Homo sapiens: one gene and its partners. The protein of the gene in region 3 interacts with the protein of the main gene of each other region in a biochemical or structural test. Each region holds a gene or a part of one and is shown on either strand. Other genes may lie near its edges.

Evidence for each region.
Region 1: the proteins of ABCC4 (region 3) and NHERF2 form a complex in vitro, tested with the Homo sapiens proteins (2 studies listed by BioGRID and IntAct, with this or other methods).
Region 2: the proteins of ABCC4 (region 3) and PDZK1 form a complex in vitro, tested with the Homo sapiens proteins (2 studies listed by BioGRID and IntAct, with this or other methods).

The regions. Positions count from the first base shown.
Region 1 is NC_000016.10:2,022,979-2,029,917, reverse strand, and holds the start of NHERF2 (Na(+)/H(+) exchange regulatory cofactor NHE-RF2), read right to left. Parts: upstream 3,017-6,939; 5' UTR 2,913-3,016; coding exon 2,700-2,912; intron 1,743-2,699; exon of another isoform or gene 1,722-1,742; intron 337-1,721; coding exon 136-336; intron 1-135.
Region 2 is NC_000001.11:145,697,353-145,704,379, forward strand, and holds part of PDZK1 (Na(+)/H(+) exchange regulatory cofactor NHE-RF3), read right to left. Parts: intron 1-7,027. UniProt on the Homo sapiens protein: A scaffold protein that connects plasma membrane proteins and regulatory components, regulating their surface expression in epithelial cells apical domains.
Region 3 is NC_000013.11:95,298,432-95,306,196, forward strand, and holds the start of ABCC4 (ATP-binding cassette sub-family C member 4), read right to left. Parts: upstream 3,021-7,765; 5' UTR 2,884-3,020; coding exon 2,810-2,883; exon of another isoform or gene 2,520-2,809; intron 1-2,519. UniProt on the Homo sapiens protein: ATP-dependent transporter of the ATP-binding cassette (ABC) family that actively extrudes physiological compounds and xenobiotics from cells.

The DNA of each region.
Region 1 (6,939 bases), on a different chromosome or scaffold from region 3:
GGGGCAGAAAAGGAGCCCCAAAAGGCAGAAGAGACCAAGACTTCTGGAGGTGACCAAAGGCAAAGATCGTCGTCAAAAGCTGAGAGAGCCTCTGGGAGAGGCTAGGGTGGTCCCTGTGGGCCAAGCCCGCCATACCTTCTTGCCAGCTTCGGAGCTGTGGCTGCCGGTGTGTGCCCAGTCTGGCTTCGGCTCCCAGGGGTCGTGGGCGGGTGGGAGCCCTCGCTGGGCCATCTCCTCGGTACAGGTCAGCTGCCGCCGGCGGAGCTCCTCATCTGTCTCCTGGTCCACCACCAGCAGCCGAGTCTGCCCCTCCACAGCCTTGATCCTTTGCACCACCTGGGGCGAATGGGCGATAGGAGCGGGTCAGTGGCCCACATTCCGGGCAGCACATGGGCAGTGGCACCACTCTGGGCTGGCCCAGGCGTGCGGACAGGCGGCTGGTCTGCATGGGCGGGTGGCTGCACCAAGAGGCCTGCCGGCCCCGCCCCCCACCCCCGGACTCCAGCGGCTCCCTCCCTCTGCACTCAGGCTCCGGACACTGAGGCCCAGGCTGTGAGGGCTTCAGGGTGCTCCCAGAGCCTTGCCCTTAGCCCAGGGTCTTCTCCAGGCGGGGCTGGGAAGGGGCTGCAGGATAGGGCCGCTGGGTAAGTCCTGTCTGGAAGTGACAAAAATGGTGCACAGTGGACCTTCAGGTTTTCAGTCTGCCTGTCCCTGTGCGCGCATGCATCCATCTGTTTCAAAGTCTGTGTCTCCGTCCAGGTTTGAAGGAGAGGTGTGTCTCCCTGGGCCCCAGTTTGAGTGTGTCTGTGCCCATTCCCGTCATTCTCTGCCGTGCAGTGTGGGAGTCTAAACTCCTGACCCTAGGCCTTATATCTACCTCCAGGCCATGGCCATGGGCCCATTCCCTCTGGATCTGCAGAGAGGGGAAGGGCTGGGCTCCTGGCTCGGGCACCCACACACAGCCAGGGAAGCAGGATTCAGGTGCAGCCGGCGAGGGGGAGAGGCAGGTGCACCTGTGGACAGCTGTGGCTTGGTGGCCGTCGGTGTGTGCGTGCAGGTGCCTGTGAAGTGTCTGGACCACGCGGGGGGCCAGCGCACACCCGCGGAGAGAAAGCAGTGCCCACTGGGAAGTGGGCAGGAAGAGGGGCAGCCCTACTCCCACCTGCGGCCTGGGGGAGGGTGGACAAGGCTCCCCACCAGCTGCCGGGCTCAGCAGGGGTGGTGAACAGATAGGAGGGACTGAGCCAGGCCCATCTTCCCCCAGCCCTCCTCTCTCCCCATGACCCAGAGTGAGACAAGAGGAACCCAGTGCCCAGCTGCTTCTTGACTATGTGTCCCAGACAAGTTACCCTCAATCTCTGGCATCAGTTTCCTCAACTGTCAAATGGGGCAGTAACTGCCCCTCTTGCCCTCCTGGGGCAGTGGGGAGAGTCCACCATGGTCTGTGTGTCCAGTCCTCAGAGACCAGCCCCACAGGGCCTTGGAAAAGCAGGTGTTCCCAGGGCGAGGGTGGCAGTGACTATCCAACAGCAGCCTGGCCCCAGCCCTGGCAGCCCTACCCTCAATCCCTCAGGTCCAGGCCCCTGGCCTGATCCCCACATTCTTCAGCAAACAACCTTACACAGCAGACACTCTGGGTGGAAGGCATGGGGCCGGCCGACAGAGTGACAGACAAGGCACCAGGTAAACAGGAGACCAGCTCCAGGTCCAGCTGAACCAACCTGCTAATCTCTAGGTTCCAGGACCAGCCATGTAGACAGGTTATGGATTCATCGGTGCTGTGAGGGACAGGGGACCTGGAGGAAAAGGGGTGTGTGGACGCTGGACCCCAACCAGGGTCTGGAGGGAGTCCCTGGCCTGTGGGAGACAGACACACCTCAGGGGTCAGAACCCACAGAGAAAAGGCTCTGTTCTCCTTAGCCAGGAGGCAGGAGGCTTCGGCCAGTAACCCCAGCCAGGCTAGGCAGCCTCTGAGGAGGAGTAGTGCCTTTGTAGCTAAGGAATGTGGTTGCCAGCAATGACCAACTCAGCCCGGTCCCAGACACACCAGCTGGGACACACTAGAGTACAGACACAAAGACTCACCGGCCTGCAGACAGTGATGAGTACACTAGCCAGGCGTGCACACACACAGAGCCCAGCTCCCATACGCCCAGGAGTCCAGACCTGCACACACACAGGCACACGTGCAGACCTGTATACTCACACACACACTACAGCACACACAGGTGCAGACACACTGATGCCTTTACTGCGACCCCTCCTGGGTACGCACAGGCAGGCGCATGCACACATGGCTGACCCCAAAGGGACCTGCATACACACGCCCAGCTGTGTTCACACGCACACGTGTACACACACACCCAGGCAAAAGCACCCAGGTCTTCACCTTTCCGGAGGGGCTCCAGGCGGCCCAACACCCTCCTTCACGGCACACTGAGGCCAAAACGCGACCAAAGGGCGAGGCCAGCGGCCAGGAGCCGCAGTGCGGGCCCCTCCCTGCCAGGATGCCCCCCCCCACCCCCGTGCAGGACTGAGCTTCCTGCGCCGGGACTCCGAAGGCGCCGGGCCGCTGCCTCCCGACAACGTCCGCGTCCTCCCCGCGGGAGCCCCCTCGGGCCCCCGTGCGACCCCTGCTCGCCCCAGGGGGACGCGCTCGGGGAGGGGGCGGCGGGCCGGGGGCGAGCGCTGGCCCCCACCTGGTGGTGCGTCTCGCCCTCCACGTTGACGCCGTTGACCTCGACCAGGCGGTCCCCAGCGCGCAGCGCGGCGGCCTCGGCGGGGGAACCGGGTTCCACGCGCCGGATGAACTGCCCGCGGCGGCCCTTCTCGCCGTGCAGGTGGAAGCCGTAGCCCTGCTCTCCGCGCACCAAGCGGCACAGGCGCGGCCGCAGCGGCTCCGGCGCGGCCATGGCGCCCGCTGCCCACCGGCCGCCCGCGGGCAGGGGCGCGGGGGAGCTCGGGGGCGGCGGCGGCGCTGGGCACCCGGCGGTGGCTTCAGCGGCGGCTCCTGTTCGGCTCCCGTCGCCTCGGGATCCGGCTCGGGCTCCGGCTCGGGCTGCGGCACCGCCTCCGCGCCCGCCCCTTCCCCGCCCCCGCCGCCCGGCCGCCCCCGCCTCCAGTCCCAGCCGTCCCGGCCAGGCCCCTACCTCCGCGCCCGGCCAGCCCGAGGCGGGGCAGGGGGAGGCGGCAGGGCTAGGGGACCCCTTAACCACCGGGACCTCTCTGTCTCGCCCCTACTCTGGGCAGCCGCCTTGGTGCCAGCGCCTTTGCCTTCTATCCCAGGAACATTTATTGGATACCTACTGTATGCGCAGCATCGAGGCAGGTCTTGAGGTGGGCGACGGGTTGGACAAAGGGTCTCCAGGCCAAGGGACCCCGACAAAGGGGCCAAAGGGTAAGAACAAGGGCCACAGCCCTCCCCACCCTCCCCGGGAAGCCCTTCCGGACCCCCTTGCCTGTCTCCTCTCGGCTGTGTCTCACCTGGATCCCTCCCAGCCAGTGGCTGGGAGACTCCCTGGCCCAGGGCAGAGTCTCAGGAGGGCCCAGGAGGCAAAAAGGGCTTTAAAAGTGACACGCAGCAGCCCCTCCCTGCATCCTGGGGGCCAGTGGCTGGGAGACTCCCTGGCCTACCCACCGTGTTCGGCCTATCTGCACCGCGTCGGTTCCCACGCCCTGCTGCCATTCTTTCCCTTGGCCGGGCCGGCCCCCTCACTTGTGTCCCAGCCCACCCCAGGCCTGGACTGTGACTTTGCAGGGTGACAAAAGGATATGAGTCTCGAGGGTCCCTGCTACCCACCTCCTGACATGGGCTACACTCCACTGAATTATTTGGGCTCTAAGCTCTGGGTGTGCACAGGCGCTGCTCCACAGTGTCCACAGGCAGGCAGCAGGCCTCCCCTCCCCTGCCCACAGCCGTCCACGTCCCTCAGCCTCTACCTGAAGCACGAGTGTCCCTCCTTCCCCAACAGGACAGTCACCACCACAGTGAAATCATTTAGGCCTAAGTGCATTTTACCTGGAACAACCCTAGGGGACCGGCCACTTCACAGACCTGCAAACAGGCCTGGAGAGGGAAAAGACCCACGAAGCCTCCTCAGCTCCATTTGGGCCCAGGGATGTGAGATTCGGAGTCCATGCTATCTTCACCACCCAGCTCTTCCTCTGTCTCCAATATAGGAAGGTAGCTGAGTCCAGGCACAGCCCCAGTCTGCCCTCCTCCCCAGCCCAGCCAGGCCCCCTTGCACATACCTGGTTCCCAGGGGTCAGGCACAGCCAGCCCAGGCAATTCCCCATGTGAGCCGTAGAAGCAGGCTTGGCGCAGTCCTCCTCTCCCTCTCGTCTCTCCGGGGCCCTGGGCTGGGCTCCCCTGCCCCCACCCAAGCACAGGGCTCGCCTCTGGGCAGCCTCCTGGGCCATGGCCCCCTGGGTGCCCATATCCCGGCAGCTGCCCCTAAAAGCCACTTAGGCTGAGGCGCCGCGACTGCTCGCCACCCCAACCCCTGCAATTCCTGGGTAAGGCTGCTTCAGGCTCCCGCCCGGCCGGCCGCTTCCATCTCTCTGTCTGCATGTCCAGAGGCTGCCTGTCTGGCCTGTGGCTGGCCTCCCTGGACACAGCCTGGTGCTGCCACCCTTGGAGTCTGTGAAGATGGCTGTGGGCAGTGTGACCCACCACCACGCACCCCACATACCACACCTGTTTGGGCTTAGGGGGTCATCCCACACCAACCAGGTCCACCCAAAACCTGGCAGGCTGTAGCTTCCTGGCCACACTAGAGTCGAGGGAGGTGGCTGGATGGGAGACTCCAGCAGCCCCAGGTCCCCTGGGTAAGGGGGCTTGCAGACCTTACCCGCCCTGGGTGGGGCAGACGCCTGATCAGCCTTGGGCATACACCATCCTTCCCTGGCCCAGGACTCAGCTGATTCCTACTCCCAGTGACTGAAGATGGGCTGAGGGGCCGGAGCAGTGGCTCACGCCTGTAATCCCAACACTCTGGGAGGCCGAGGTGGGTGGATCACCTGAGGTCAGGAGTTCGAGACCAGCCTGGCCAATGTGGCGAAACCCCGTCTCTACTGAAAATACAAAAAAAATTAGCCAGGCGTGGTGGTGGGCATCTGTAATCCCAGCTACTGGGGAGGTTGAGGCAGGAGAATCGCTTGAACCCAGGAGGCGGAGGTTGCAGTGAGCTGAGATTGCGTCACTGCACTCCAGCCTGGGCAACAGAGCTAGACACCATCTCAAAAACAATAAATAAATAATTTAAAAACAAATAAAAAAAAAAAGATGGGATGGAGAACAGCATGGCAGAGGGAGGGGCCACAAGGGACATGAGGTCACAACCAGGGCCAGGAACCAAGGAAATATCACCGGACACACTGCTGCTACAGAGTTAACAAAAGAGTCCCCAAAGCCATGAAGGAGCTGAGGAGGGTAACAGAGTAGCAAAGGGCCGGGCAACAAAGGAAGTGGGCCTAGCAAAGCAGGGAGCAGGAGGAATGAGGCAGCCAGAGAGGAACCAGAGGTCACGATTTCAGAGGAGGTGCAGAGTCAGTGAGAGGGGACAGTGAGTCCAGGGGCCTGGAGGAACAGGCGAGGAAGGGTGACCTAGAAGCTCTCGGGGGCAAACCCTCCCAGGCCTCTTCTCCAGCCAGCCTCCGGAAGCTCTCAGCCCTGGTCCGAGGCTGACCTTGGCCCGTATGGGTGCTGCGCTGGAGGCAGAGAAAGGCGAAGGGAAGCACCTGGGCAAAGGTGTTCAGGGGCCGCAAAGTGCTTGGTGTCTCGAAGAAAGGGCTAGGGAGGTGGGCGGGAGGGAGTAGGGTCAGCATCGAGAGGAGGGTGGACTTTATTTTCCTGGTTCTGTGGGGTGCAGATGGGGTGTGGGTGACGTGGGCTCCCCGGGCCCCAGCAGGAGGGAAGAAAGTCAAGGCAGAGGCAATCAGAGGCTTGGGAGATCCCCCAACTCTCCACCCAACCCCCTTAACCCACGCCTGCCAGCATGCTACCCAGGCGTGGGTCCTATCCAGCAGAGGGAGAGCAGGTCTCAGCCGTTCCCCTGGGCTGTCGGTGGGGGGTCCACCGGGGTGGGGGCCGCCCGTGCACTCCTGTTTTGGCAGGACCTTTCCTTCGGGCCTTGAACCCGCATCCCTCCAGCAAGGTCCCAGCGATCTCAGGGAGCCCGAGCCTGGACCTGGACCGGGGCTCCGGGGTGTGGCCGTGGCCTGGGGCCCTGTCTGGGGGTGGGGCCACTATTCCGACTCCCGGTAATGGTCCAGAGCTGCTCAGGCAGGCGGGGCTTCCTAATGGACATTAATGGCCCTTCAAGCATAACCAGACCGCGCCTAGGGCCTCTTCCCTCAGGCTGCACCATGCCTCTCTTTACATTCTGAAACTGGAGCAGGCGGAGCCAGCGCGACAGAAGGAGGTGACCAACAGAGACCCACAGACCAGACAGAGAGAGAAGGCCGGGGGACTGCGACGACCCAAGAGTGGGGAGAGGCAGGAAACCGCTGCCGCCGACGGGGCGACCCCGCCCACCCGTCGTGGCCCCGCCCACTGCGGCTCTAGCCCCGCCCGTTGCTGGAGGCGCGAGTCGGACGCTACCGCCCGGAACAGTAGCCGCGCAGCGCCACCTGGCCGGAACTGGTGGCATTGCATCGTGCGAGGAGTTGCCCCAGGATCCTGCCCATCTGGCTTCCTTCCACTCGATCCAGTCCTGTGGGGTGGGGACTGGGGTGAGGCTGGCGCCCTAGGCCTGGTTGCGCTGCAGGGGAATAAGGGTGTGGAGTGGGGGAGGCAGAGAAGCCTCTCATGGGCTCTGTCTCCCCATCTTGGACCAGGCAAGCACCAGGGAACATCACTGAACGCCCCCCCGCCAGCCCCGCGAGAACAGAGCTTTGAGCACCTTGGCCTGCGCAAGGGGAGGCCAGAGCTGAAGCAGC
Region 2 (7,027 bases), on a different chromosome or scaffold from region 3:
AGAGAGAAAGAGAAAGAGAGAAAAGAAAGAGGAAGCAAAAAGGAATAATCAGAAAACAAAATGCCAAAATTTTAGTGTCATCAAAACTAAAAGAAGAATTTTAAGATGGGATAGTTAACAATGCCAAATAATGCTAAGAGGTAGAGAGAATGAAAACAGAAAATGCCACTGACATTCAGAAAATGGAAGTCTGGGCCTGATAAAACACTAAGAAGCAAGTGGATACCAAGTAACAGAAGCAACGAATATTGATATTTTATTTTTTGAGACAGTCTCGCTCTGTCACCCAGGCTGGAGTGCAGTGGTGCGATCTCAGCTCACTGCAACCTCTGCCTCCCAGATTCAAGCAAGTCTCCTGCTCAGCCTCCTGAGTAGTTGGGATTTCAGGCACCCGCCACCATGCCCAGCTAATTTTTTTTTTTTTTTTTTTTTTTTTTTTTTTTTTTTAGTAGAGACAGGATTTCACCATGTTGGTCAGGCTGGTCTCAAACTCCTGACCTTGTGGTCCGCCCGCCTCAGCCTCCCAAAGTGCTGGGATTACAGGCATGAGCCACTGCACCCAGCCTGGATGTTTTTATTTTTAACATTAAGGAAACGATCAGCATGTTTCTGTATCAAGAGATGATATGGAGAACATGGAAACTGGGGTTAGCCTTGGTGAGAGGAAATACCTCTTCTCCAGGGGCAGAAGAGAAGTAGAAAAAAATATGATAAAGAAGAAAACAAGGTCACTTACCTCAGCCTCAATCTCTCCTACGAAGTAGCTGACAAAAATCAGGAACTTGGAGAATATGGAGCAAAAGTACCACAGAAAAATAATCTCTAGGGTCAAACAGGTAAATCAGCGAAGGTGGCCGAGAGGGGACGGAGGAAAAGCTGCTGCTTTTCATGAGAAGACAACTGCCTGAGGAAGAGGAGGCCAGCATGCCACCTTTCAATTTTCAAGAGACTCTGGAAATCTAGATTTACATAAAATGTCCCCATTTAAAAAAACTGACAGCTATTTCAAACTTAAAAGAAATTCTATGTAAACCAAAAGAGAATGGAGCCCCCGAGCTGGCGGTGAACTAAGACAGTGAACTAATGGCCACAGCATTAGCTCACTACAAAGAGTCAATGAATTGAATTAAAATGTCTAAGAAACAACTTAGGTTAAAATATATATATATAATAAACTTGCAGCAGCATGGGTTCCCATGGATTTTTCTTACAGTAATATACATCAAGAATAGAAAAGGAAAGTGGTAACTTTTACCCTAAGTTGGGGCTAACATATTTTTAAAACATAAGGGTAGGCCAGGCGCAGTGGCTCACACCTATAATCCCAGCACTTTGGGAGGCCGAGACGGGTGAATTACTTGAGGTCAGGAGTTCGAGACCAGCTTGGCCAACATGGTGAAACCTCATCTCTCCTAAAAACACAAAAAACATTAGCCAGGTGTGGTGGCAGGCACCTATAACCCCATATACTCCGGAGGCTGAGACAGGAGAATTGCTTGAACCCGGGAGGCGGGAGGCGGAGGCTGCAGTAAGCCAAGATTGCACCACTGCACTCCAGCCTGGGCGACAGAACGAGAGTCTGCCTCAAAAAATAAAAAATAAAGGCCAGGTACAGTGGTTCATGCCTGTAATCCCAGCACTTTTGGAGGCCGAGGCAGGCGGATCACCTGAGGTCAGGAGTTTGAGACCAGCGTGGCCAACTTGGCGAAACCCTGTCTCTACTAAAAATACAAAAATTAGCCAGGCTTGGTGGTGGGCATCTGTAATCCCAGCTACTCAGGAGTCTGAGGCAGGAGAATCACTTGAACCCAGGAGGCAAAGGTTGCAGTGAGCTGAGATCACGCCATTACACTCCAGCCTGGGCAACGAGTGAAACTCCATCTCAAATTTAAAAAAAAATAAAATAAATTTAAAAATTAGCTGGGCGTGGTTGTGCGTGCCTGTAATCCCAGCTACTCAGGAGGCTGAGGCACAGGAATCGCTTGAACCCGGGAGGTGGAGGTTGCAGTGAGCCAAGATTGTACCACTCACTCCAGCCTCAGTGACACAGCAAGACTCCATCTCAAACTAACAAGCCCATAAGAGTAGGATGTGAGGATTTCTAGATTTACAAGGGGCACAGAGCTGGAATGTCAGACTGTGGGGCCAACATGAATTGGCAGATAAGAGGAGCTAGGAGTTTGGGATTGGGAAGATGAAATGTTTCAGGGACTAGCTTAGCAGCATGAGTTGGGAAGAAAGAAGAAGGGACTGTGGAAGCAGTTTCAAAAGTTAGTGGGTTGACACAGGAAAAGTTATCTGAAAAGATCTTTAGAGCAGAATAGTTCCCCATGATGCAATTCTAAAGGAGCCAGATGTGTATACAAAAGGGAATCTGTATTTTTGTTTCCATCTTCCCCCAGGATCGATTCTGAGTAAGGTAGAGTAGAAAGAGCAAGGGTTTTAGAGCCAAACCTAGTTTTTAATCCTGGCTTCACCGCTTGTTAACTGTAAGAACATGGGTGAGTTCCTTAATTTTGAGCTGAAGATAGAATACCCCTAGAATAGGAAGCACATGTGGATGCCGTGAAGATGGCTCACAGTAGAGCATGCAAGGCCTCTCAGCACAGTTTCTGGAGCATAGAAGTCCACTCCATCCAAGTTACTCTTTCCTGTCCTCTGATGAAACGCCTGATGCAATGGGAATCCCATTTTCTGTGAGAATATTTGAAATTTTTCCTGATTTTCTTTTTGCAGAAGACAGGAAGAAATTACAGACTAAGAATGGGCAGGCACCTCAATGATCAGGCAAGGGATTCTCTATCTACTCAGTCCAGATCACTTCTGCGAAGCTAATTTTAGCTGCTGAAAAGTCAGGGCTGGAGATTTTGTTCCCCATGAAAGAAAGCTCAAATAATAAACTCTGGACTCAAAAGTATCCTGTAAGTCTAAAAGCCAGGGAATTACAAAATAGAACCAAATGCTGTGTATCAAGGAGGTAAAAGAGTCCAGGGAGCTTTAACAGAATTTCAAGACTAAGCTGGCCAGAGAGTTCCACCGCCTGGAGTGGATAAGCTCTAACAGAAGTGAACATAGGGACCCAAGGAACAGACAGCAGTGGAGAAGATGGAGTGAGTGAAGCATTACCTTAGCTATAGATACCTGGCCCAGAGAGGGACCTTCATAGCCAAGGAGTAGCTAGTGAATAGGCTCACTCACCAGACAGCATCACTGAAATGCCAAAAGATCAGAGAGAGGGCATGGGATAAACAGCATTCTGCTTGGAGGGAGAAAGACAGAAGGGGGCTGTCACCAGCGATGGCCAGATGCAATGAAATACCATCAGGAAAGAAACAGCCCAGGTACTGTCATCTCTGCTCATCTTCCAAGGTCTGGGACTTAGAAGTGGCAGGATTATTCCATAAATATAGTCATCTACACCTGAACCCACCATCACCTTATCTAATAGTAACTAGGAATCAATTATGCCGTCAGTATCACACCACGAAGACAACAGAGCCTCTCCCCACAAGGCACTTACATAACCAACACTCAATCCATGAAAACACTAAACACTAAAAACTTAGCAGGGGCTGGGCGCGGGGGCTCATGCCTGTAATCCCAGCAGTTTGGGAGGCTGAGACAGGAGGATCACCTGAGGTCAGCAGTTTGAGACCAGCCTGACCAATATGGTGAAACCCCGTCTCTACTAAAAATACAAAAATCAGCTGGGTGTGGTGGCACACGCCTGTAGTCCCAGCTACTCGGGAGGCTGAGACAGGAGAATTGCTTGAACCCAGGAGGTGGAGGTTGCAGTGAGCCAAGATAGTACCACTGCACTCCAACCTGGGCAACAGAGCGAGACTCCATCTCAAAAAAAAAACAAACACTTAGCAGGACTGCTGGTGAGGAATGTTTAACCCTAGTTACTCTGACTGTGGAAGGGTATCTGATTGTATAATCTAGTATGAAACCATAGAGTAAGTTACTTCTGTTTTGTTGAGGCATAAGGAAAAGAAAGGGCAGGGTCTCTCCGGCAACATTAAACCTAGACATTACTTGCTTTCCACTGAACTCCATGCTTGCCTATAAAACACTCTGAACTTTAGCAAGAAAAAAGCCACATTCTCAGGACGCTTGACCACAGTGTGCACTTTGAGGAATGCTGTTCTTGCAGCACTTGTGTGCATCTGTGTAACAAGAAAGAAGAAAACAAACCCACTAGACTTTTGTTAGGAAAATACAGTTGGTGGAGACTGTGCAACATTAAGCCAGCAACTATAGACAGGCTGAGAATTCCCTACAGGCATCAGCCCTGACTCCAAGGCTTCATGCCTCACACCAGCCATGGCTGGCCTCCTTCAGAGCCTGCCACAGAGCCTTGGCACATGCTGTTCCTTCCAACAGCATAAGCAAAAAAATCCTGCTGTATCTGAGCTGCTACTGACAGATGTCTCTAGCAAGGAAGAGATAAAGACAACTCAATTTCACCCTTCTTCAAATATATTTTACCTAGAACAGATCCTATATTTTTATGCAGATCATATTTAAGGCTGCCTGGATTTCTCCTCTGAAAAGCAAAGCATATGGAAATTCAAATACTCAAGTATATTTACTTTAAATAATTAATATCAAAAATAGAAGGAGAAGCAAGATTCTAAAATATGTATTTGCCTAGTGTACTTTCCCATTGTGATAGTTACTGTTTGGTCTTAGCCAGGGATAAATTTCAAATATGAGAAATCAATGAAATCCATTCCATTGAGAATTATCTGGAGAAGAGTGATCCCAGACCCACTGAGTAGTTTTTATTTCTCATTTATGATCAAGAATGGAATCTACTTATCCCAAAGTTCATTTGGCCTGCTGATACTAAGTACCTTCCCTACCTCCAGCCACCATAAACAATACTTTGTCCTATATGGCAAGACTCTGGGCTGGAGTTCAAGGCCTTTCACAGTTTGATTGCTTATCTAAGAGTTCTATGAGTTGGGAGAGGGATAGAGCCAATATTGTGTGGAAACAGAGGCACCCACAGAGAGAGGACACCCTCATGCTGCTGATAGACAGCTCAACCGCCTTGAGTGCCAGCTGAGACAAGTGCTTTCCCCAAATCGACATTTTGTGACTTTTTGAACTTGCATTTCTACCCCCCCACTTTTTTTTTGGTATGTTTAAACTACTACAAGAGTCTTGCCTCGAGACAAACTTTCTAACCCTGGTTTTATTATACTACCATCTCAAAAATAATAATAATAATAATTCAAGAAAAAGAAGCTCGGCCGGGTGCAGTGGCTCACGCCTGTAATCCCAGCACTTTGGGAGGCCAAGGCAGGCGGATCACGAGGTCAGGAGATCGAGACCATCCTGGCTAACACAGTGAAACCCCATCTCTACTAAAAATACAAAAAATTAGCTGGGTGTGGTGGCGGACGCCTGTAGTCCAAGCTACTCGGGAGGCTGAGGTAGGGGAATGGTGTGAACCCAAGAGGCGGAGCTTGCAGTGAGCCAAGATCGTGCCACTGCACCCCAGCCTGGGCAACAGAGCAAGACTCCGTCTCAAAAAAAAAGAAGTTCAAGCTTCTTGCTCAGGCACTGAGGCTCAGCATAATCCAGCCCTACCTCAGGCCCCCAGCTCCTCAGCAAGCCCCAATTGGTCTATGCATGGTCACCCACACGAGCCTGCCCTTTGCTCATGCCCCATGAGCACTTACTCATAGTACGTGCTAAGTAAACATTTGTTCCAAGTGAACGAATTTAAGACCTACCATTTTCAAGGCTCAGTTCAAATTTTAGATTATATACGAATCCTTCCATGACCACCACAGTCTGAAGGTATCATTTCATCTTCTGAATTTCAGTTATCGCTCATGTACTTAACAAGTTCTATGTAATACCTACTGCGAGGCAGGTATCAGGGCTCAACCCAGAATAGCTACCGTCCTGCCCTGAAAGAGCCTGGAGTCCAGTGGGGAGAGTTATGAAGTTTAACTGCTGAACAACGTTGTGGGTGCTGGAATATTTAAATACAAAAGCTTTCTTATTGTTATATATATTTATTGAGCTCCCTACTAGGATTAGGAACCAGCCTAGGTACTTTTTATGGGTTCTGATTCAATCCTGATGGGCCATTTTACAAGGAAAAAGAAAAGAGACTCTGAAAAGTTAACTTGGTTTCCCCTGACTATTTGGATAAGCAGAGTCTGGATTCAAACCCAGTTGAGTCTGGATTCCTTCCACCATCTACCCTGCCTCCCAGGCCTGAGGTGTAGAATGTATTCTGGAAATACAAGTAGTCAGACTAGGAAGAGGAAGTCATCCCAGGCAGAAGGAACAGCAGGAGATGCATTCCCAGAATGGTGAATGGTTCAGAAAGATCAGAGCACAGTTATATGTTGAAAAAAAGAAGTAGGTTAGACTGTGAGCACTGGACTCAGTCCAGTAGACTATAGAGGAGCTTCAGGATCCATGTCGTGTGTCCCCAACAAGATAAGCTTTTTTTTTTTGGCCAGGAGGGATGGAATCTTGCTCTTGTGGTCCAGGCTAGAGTGCAGTGGTGCGATCTCGGCTCACTGCAACCTCTGCCACTTGGATTCAAGCAATTCTTCTGCCTCAGCCTCCTGAGAAGCTGGGATTGAAGGCACCCGCCACCACACCCGGCTACTTTTTGTATTTTTAGTAGAGATGGGGTTTCACTATGTTGGCCAGGCTGGTCTCAAACTCCTGACCTCAAGTGATCCACCCTCCTCAGCCTCCCAAAGTGCTGGGATTACAGGCGTGAGCCATCATGCCCAGCCAAGATAAGCTTTCTTAAGAGCAGGCACCACAGCCCCTTTCTGTATTCTCACACCATCAGGTATGTATTCAATACAACTGGTGGAAAGTCCACGGGCTTTTCTGGATCATTTAGTTTCATGTCCCCATTGGGACCCCATGGTTCTACGCAGCTTTATGAATGCTGACTATCTGTGCCTCCAACCAGGCTTGGCACCTCAGAAACCAGTGACCACCTCAGACCAAAAGCAAACCTTCTCTAGTTGCCACTAAG
Region 3 (7,765 bases):
CCTCACCACCCCCACCCACACACCCAGTGTTTCCAGTTTTACTGAATCAGTCCAGAGTGGATGCTGGAGAATCTGCATCTCTTAGAATCTCCCAAGTGATGCCGATGCTGCTGCTCTGAGTGCTATGCTTTGAGAACAGCTGCCCTAAAGCACACTAATAGTTGTTACACATGCATCATCTCCAACTGCAGGTACTTTAAGAATTTCCCTTGAGAAACTCTAGCCTTCCAGAACAGGGAGCGCCTTCTCCATGCATTTCCGACAGCACCTGAACTGGAAGCAGCTCAGTACAGCAGCTCCAAAGAGGCTGGGGAGCCAGTCTGCCCAGCTTTGGAGCCTGCTCTGACACTTGATTGTTGTGTGAGTCCAGGCAACTTAACCACTCTCAGCTTAAGTGTCCTCGGAGTAAAACAGAGGTCTACTAGCTCCTTCCCTTCCATCAGGGAAACCGGAAATGAACACCTACTCAAGTCATCAATGGGAGCGCATCACTTCCTATTTCCCTGCCACCTACATTTTGAAAATGCAGGGGGAGAAAAATATAAGGAGGCAGGAGTCACATCTGTAATCCCAGACTTTGGGTGGCCGAAGCGGGAGGAACACTTGAGCCCAGGAGTTCAAGACCAGCCTGAGCAACAACATAGAGAGCCCTATCTCTACAAAAAAAATTTTTTTTTATTATCCGGGCATGGTGACACACACCTGGAGCCCCAGCTACTCGGGAGGCTGAGGCAGGAGGATTGCTTCGGCCCAGGAGTTGGAGGCTGCAGCAAGCTATGAATGTGTCACTGCCCTCCAGCCTGGGTCACAGCTTGCACAAAGCAAGATCCTGTCTCAAAAAAAAAAAAAAAAAGTTCCTTGCCCTGCCTGAAGTTGAGGAGACCATTTGTCTACCTCAAGTTATTATTTGCAGAAACCACACCCATATTCCTTCCTCCTCCACGTGCCCCTCTCCTTAAGAGAAAGGCCGCCAAACAACCAAGAGAAGTTCCTACACCCACTGAGTGTACCACAATCGAAACAAGAGTAAGCGACTCATCCTCTTGGAATCCCCTAGGTCAAGCTTGTCCAACCTGAGGCCCATGGGCTGCCAAATTCGTAAGCTTTCTTAAAACATCAGATTTTTTTTTGCGATTTTTTTTTAGCTCATCAGCTATCATTAGTGTTAGTGTATGATTAGTGTTAGTGTATTTTATGTATGGCCCAAGACAATTCTTCCAGTGTGGCCCAGGGAACCCAAAAAATTGGAGACCCCCACCCTAGGTTGTCCCATAATAAAAGGCAATATCAACATGTGGGAAAGATGAGGCGGCAGAGGTCAAGAAACAGAAGATCTAATAATCATCCAAGTGAGATTGAAGCCCTTCAAAGGTTCAGGCTTATGTAGTTAGCAGACGGAATTCCCCCACACACACCCGCCACTCCCCCAAGACGGAGTCTCACTCTGTCACCCAGGCTGGAGTACAGTGGGGCGATCTCAGCTCACTGCAACCTCCGCCTACTGGGTTCAAGCAATTCCCCTGCCTCAGCCTCCTGAGTAGCTGGGATTACAGGCGTGCTCCACCACACCCGGCTAATTTTTGTATTTTTAGTAGAGACGGGGTTTCACCATGTCAGCCAGGCTGGTCTCGAACTCCTGACCTCGTGATCCACCCACCTCTGCCTCCCAAAGTGCAGGGATACAGGCGTGAGCCACCGCGCCAGGCCAAGATGGAAATTTTAGTTACTACTGTCACCCGAGTCTTTCTCCGTTTGTTTCCTTGCACAAAATGGGTAGGGCTGTGGGCCCTCCCAGCTCAGGAGCCCTGGGGTGGTTTTAAGAAGGTAGAACTCCTGGTAGGAACCACCTGCATCAAGACCATGGATCACCTCTCTGAAGGTTAGCGATTCCAGGGACCCCACCTCCGAGCTGTCCTCCTACGTGGAAGTGAAAGTATTGGAAACAGGGGAAAGAAGCTGGTCAAAGACAGACTCCAGTCGTGGCGGTGCATGTCCCAGTTAAAAGCAAATCCTGGAAAATCTTGTTCAAGAACAGGGTCCCCATTCATAAATGAAAAATAATAATAGTGTTATTTTACCCACATGAAACTTGCCATAACTAGGTACCACGACCCACATGGACACACAGTGAGATTCCCACAAAGAGGCAAAAGGAGAGCCCTGGTCACTGAGACAAAAGATACAGAGACACCGGGACACAGAGAGGTACAACGGGACGTGGAGTTGGATCGAGCTGTCTCGTAAGGAATATCGGAAGGGGTGGGGACACTACTGGGAGATGGCATAGGTCCAGGACACTAATTAGGCTTTGGCTGAGATCAGATAAAGGAAACTGTTCGTAAGCTGCTTACTTAAAAAGAAAGGAAAAGGTGCGTTTGAGTTCAGGAGACTGCGAGTCCCAGAGCAGGAGGCGGGAGCCAGCGAAGGGTGGGCGTGTAAGGGGTGCAGTCGCTTCTCCCGCTGGGCAAGAGACTCCCCCTTTCGGCAGCCTGGGTTCCCCGCCTCCCCACCTCCTGCTCCTCCTCCCCCGAGCCCTAAGGGCCCGCAGGGCCTCCAGTAGCAAAGCCACTGGCCCCGCGTCCCCGCGTCCCCCTGCGCCGCGCCCCGGGGCGCAGGCAGGGACCACGCGGCCGGCGTGGGGGCGGCGCCACCCGCAGCAGAAAGCCCCGGCGTGGACCGCGTGGCGTAGGAAAGCGCTCCCCTCGCCCCCAGCCGCAGAGGGCTTGGGCAGCATCGGGCGCGGCCCCGGGAGAGTGCGTCCGCGGCGCCAGCGGCTGCAGGGTGACCTGTTTCGGGCGGGGACACTCACCAGAAGAACACGCGTGAGCAGAGGTTCGCGTCCTGCAGCGGGTTGGGCTTCACCTCCTGGTACACGGGCAGCATCTTGCCGGGCGGGGCGGGCGCGGGCCGGGGTCGCGCTGATCAGGCGGCGGTGGCCGCGGGCTCCGCTCCTGGACCTCAAGCAGGGATGCTGGGGCTCCGGCCGCCACGCCTGTCCGCTCGGCTGGAGCCTGTGAAGCAGCCGCTTCCGGGAGCCGGGCGCCGGCGGCACGCCCCGTCCCCGCCTCTCAGGCCCGCCGCCTCGGGGGCGCCCGCTACGCGCCGCCGCCTGGAGCCCGGGAGCTGCGCACCGCGTGCGAGCGCGGCCGGGACCGACGGGTGACGCGGCGGGAGGAGACGCGGCGGGAGGAGGCGAAGCTGGCGACGCCAAAGGGAGCCCAGAGCTACGCCCAGGGGTGAGGCGAGGGCCGCCTGCGCCGCTGGATGGAGAGGGTAGCAGAGCGCGCGGCAAGGAGGCCGGGTCCGGAGGTGCCCACGTGCACGAACCCGAGTGAAACTTTCCGAAATTCACTATCCGAGTCTAGGCGCCGACACAGAAGGTGGAGCAGGGAGGCGTCGGCTGTGCCCGCCCCTGCGCCGCAGAAACGCCCCCTCGGCTACGGGTTTGGGAAGACTGGGAGACAGCTGCCTCGTGCTCTAGCAGCCCGCCCCCTGGGCGCCTTTCCCTTCTCAGGACCAAACGACGGTGCCATGGGAGGCTCTTCAACCTGTGAGCCAAACATTTGACCTTGGACGACAGCAAAGTTTAGCCACAGATTATCCTTGTAGAGCTGCAAGACCTCAAGAAAGCCGGGTAACTCGAGAGTATGACCCAGATGAATTCGGGAGATGGATGAATGCTGTCGTCGATGGGGGCGGGCTTTAGGCATCTCACATGTTGCATGCTACGGTGGACCTCTGAGCTTTTTGCTGCCCCCTTAGATTGGGAAAGGAATATAAGAGGAAAGAGAGACTGCCTGATGATTTCTGTCGTCAAGCCCTAAAGCCTAACAGATAACAGTGGCAAACGACACGTGGGTTCCAGAATACCAGTGATGTTCATGTGCATTTCTGAGTGCGTAGCCTCACTAGTGTGTGTGTGTGTGTGTGTGTGTGGCAGTCTCACACACAGTGTCACGATTATGGCTCATTGCACCCTCGACCTCCCAGGGCTCAAGCAATCCTCCCAACTCAGTTTAAGTAGCTAGGACTACAGGCACCCGCCACCACACCCGGCTCATATTTTGTAATTTTTGTAGAGATGCAAAAATCAAAATCAAAGGCTCCAAGTTCAAATACTGATAATTTTTGAAGCCAAATGATTGTCATGGAGGTTTATTTTCTTCATATTTCATGCATGTTTGAGAATTTGGTTTTCTTTGTAATAAGATCATTTTATTGTTCCTTGATAATTTCTCACTTTGTTGCCCAGGCTGGTCTCAAACTCCTAGGCTCAAGTGATCCTCCCACCGTGGCCTCCCAAAGTGCTAGGATTACAGGCATGTACCACCACGCCCGACCAATTATCTCACTTTTAATTCTATCAGTGCCCCATTCAAGGTTATCCTTACTTTATAGATGAGGAAGGTGAAGCTGAAAGGCAGAACTTGTCCAGTCTTAGAGCCAAGAAAGGATAAAACATGATTTGCAATAAGCCTATGTCTAAGCATGGCCTGTCTCCCTGGTGGATGGCCAGTGTGCATGAGAAGTGCCCAGAATATGCTGGTTGAATGGCTGTAGGAATGAATGAACAAAATCTTGTTCCAAGCTTGTGTACTCCCACCTCTAAGTCTTCAGTCATTTCTGTGGCTACCTTAACAAGGTCAGCAGCTGCTCTTCATATCCACCCTGAATGAAAAAAAATGAAAGGCTCCAAGTTCATGGTGCTTGGAACAAGATCATTTTATTGTTCCTTGATAATTTCCCATGTATATTTGCTAAAATAGTATAGTTAATAGCTTTTAAAGAAAGCCTTACACAAACACATATTTAAAAGTCAAGCACAGGCTAGCCAGCATAGTGAGGCTCTGTCTCTACCAAAAGTTTTAAAAATTAGCCCAGGTGTGGTGGCGTACCCTTGTAGTCCCAGCTACTCGAGAGGCTGAGACAGGAGGATGGCTTTAGCCCAGGAGTTCCAGGCTACAAGGAGTTAAGAAGGTGCCCACTGGGCTGGGCACAATGGCTCACGCCTATAATCCTAGCACTCTGGGAGGCTGAGGCAGGTGAATCACCTGACGTCAGGAGTTCGAGACCAGCCTGGCCAACATGGTGAAACCCCATCTCTACTAAAAATACAAAAAATTATCTGGGTGTGGTGGTGGATGCCTGTAATCCCAGCTACTCAGGAACCTCAGGCAGAAGAATCACTTGAACCCAGGAGGCGGAGGTTGCAGTGAGCCGAGATCATCCCACTGCACTCCAGCTTGGCAACAAGAGTGAAACTCCGTCTCAAAAAAAAAAAGAAGGTGCCACTGCACTCCAGGCTGTACAAGCCCATAATCCCAGCACTTTGAGAGGTGGAGACAGGAGGATTGCTTTAGCCCGGGAGTTCTAGACCAGCCTGGGCAACATAGGGAGACCTCATCTCCACTAAAAATGTGAAAATTAGATGGGCATGGTGGAGTAAGTCTGTAGTCCCATGTAACCTGGAGGCTCAGGTGGGAGGATTGCTTGAGCCCAGGAGTTCTAGACCAGCCTGGGCAACAAAGGGAGACCTCATCTCTACTAAAAATGTAAAAATATGATGGGTGTGGTGGCGTGAGTCTGTAGTCCCAGCTGGAGGTTCAGGTGGGAGGATTGCTTAAGCCCAGGAGTTGGAGGCTACAGTAGGCTATGATCACACCACTGCCCTCCAGCCTGGGCTAAAGAGTGAGACTCTGTCTCAAAAAAAAAAAAAGTCAAGCACATAAGAATGGCAAAATATTGATAATTTTTGAAGCCAAATGATGTGTCATAGGGGTTTATTTTCTTACATTTCATGCATGTTTGAGAATGGTTTTCTTTTTGGAGATGGGCTCTCAGTATGTTGCCCAGGCTGGACTCAAGCTGCTGGGCCCAAGGGATCCTCCTGCCTCAACCCCTCCAAGTACCTGGGATTGTAGGCACTCGCCAGCATACCAGCTCATGTTTCAGAATTTCTGTCACAAAAAGGAACACAATATTTTAAGTTGACTACTGTGGGAAAGCTATGATCATTCAATAACCTACCTTTCTGATAGCTCTTTCTCAGATAATATAAGCTATAAACCAAAATAGTCAGCCTTCACCTGATTTACAGTGCCCTTTGAAACTTCCTAAGTTTTCTAGCCCAGTAAATGCTGAGCTACCAGTTCTACTTCCAAGCTAGAGAACCTGTTTACTAAAGTTAGAAGTCTAGTGACTTCCTCTGTCAGACTGTCCCAGAATGCTCTCCCTACCCCCAACAACTGTGTAAGAACCGTCATTAGCCATCTCCAAATTGCCAAAGTGCTCAGTCCCTTCGGCTCCTGCAGAGGCTTATTTTTTTCTTAATTAAGATCTTTTGGAACTTCTTAACATTCTTTTCTGAACATTAACAATGTGGTGTTTGGAAGAGATACTATAGAGCAGTGTCTGACTGCAGAGAGGAGTGGATATGGAACCAGGGGGCCAGGGCTTTATATCTTTTCACTTGTTACCTAACCTTTCTGACCCTTATTTTTCTCAGGTCTAAAATGGGGTCGGGGCGGGCGCAGGGGCTCATGCCTGTTATCCCAGCACTTTGGGAGGCGGAGGCAGACAGATCACCTGAGGTCAGGAGTTAGAAACCAGCCTCGCCAACATGGCAAAACCCCCTCTCTACTAAAAATACAAAAATGATCTGGGCGTGGTGGCATGTGCCTGTAATCCCAGCTACCTGCGAGACTGAGGCAGGAGAATTGCTTGAACCAGGGAGTCAGAGGTTGCAGTGAGCCGAGATCATGCCACTGCACTCCAGCCTGGCGACAGAGCGAGATTCTGTCTCAAAAAAAAAAAAAAAAAGATAAAAATTAGCCAGGCTTGGTGGCATGCGCCTGTAGTCCCACCTACTTGAGACGCTAAGGCAGGAGAATTACTTGAACCTGGGCTGCAGAGGTTGCAGTGAGCCATGAGCCAAGAGCTCGCTGCTGCACTCCAGCCTAGGTGACAGAGCTAGACTCCATCTCAAAAAAAAACAACAACAATAAAATGGGGTCAGGCAGGGCATGGTAGCTCACACCTATAATTTCAACATTTTGGGAGCCCAAGGCAGGAGCATCACTTGAAGCCAGGAGTTCGAGAGCAGCCTGGGCAATGTGATGAGATGCCGTCTCTACAAAAAATAAAAATAAAAAATAATAATAATAATAGTAATAATAATGTTTTTTAAATTAGCCAGGCATGGTGGCACACACCTGTAGTCCTAGCTACTCGGGAGGGTAAGATGGGAGGATCACTTGAGCCTAGGAGTTTGAGGCTGCAGTGAGCTCTGATTGCACGACTGCACTCCAACCTGGGAGACAGAGTGAGAGACCCTGTCTCTAAAAACATAAAAATACATGTAAAAACAAAATAGGGATCAGAATCCCCACTCTTCCTTCTTCACAGGATTATTGTGAGTCTCACAACTTGTGAATACACTCTGAAGGCAATATACAAATTAAAGGATGGGGGTTTTTTCCCATTCATTCAATAAATCGTTAGTGAACGCCTTCTGGATACATGACAGCTAGGCCAGGGAATGAGCCTGCAAAGACGAGGAAGATGTCTTCTTTTTTGTTTGTTTGTTTGTTTGTTTGTTTGTTTTTGAAACAGGGTCTAGCTCTCACCCAGGCTGGAGTGCAGTGGTGCAATCTTGGCTCACTACAACCTCCCGGGCTCAAGCCCATCCTCCCATCTCAGCATCCCAAGTAGCTGGAACTACAGGCACGCACCACCATGCCCAGCTAACTTTTGTATTTTTTTGGTA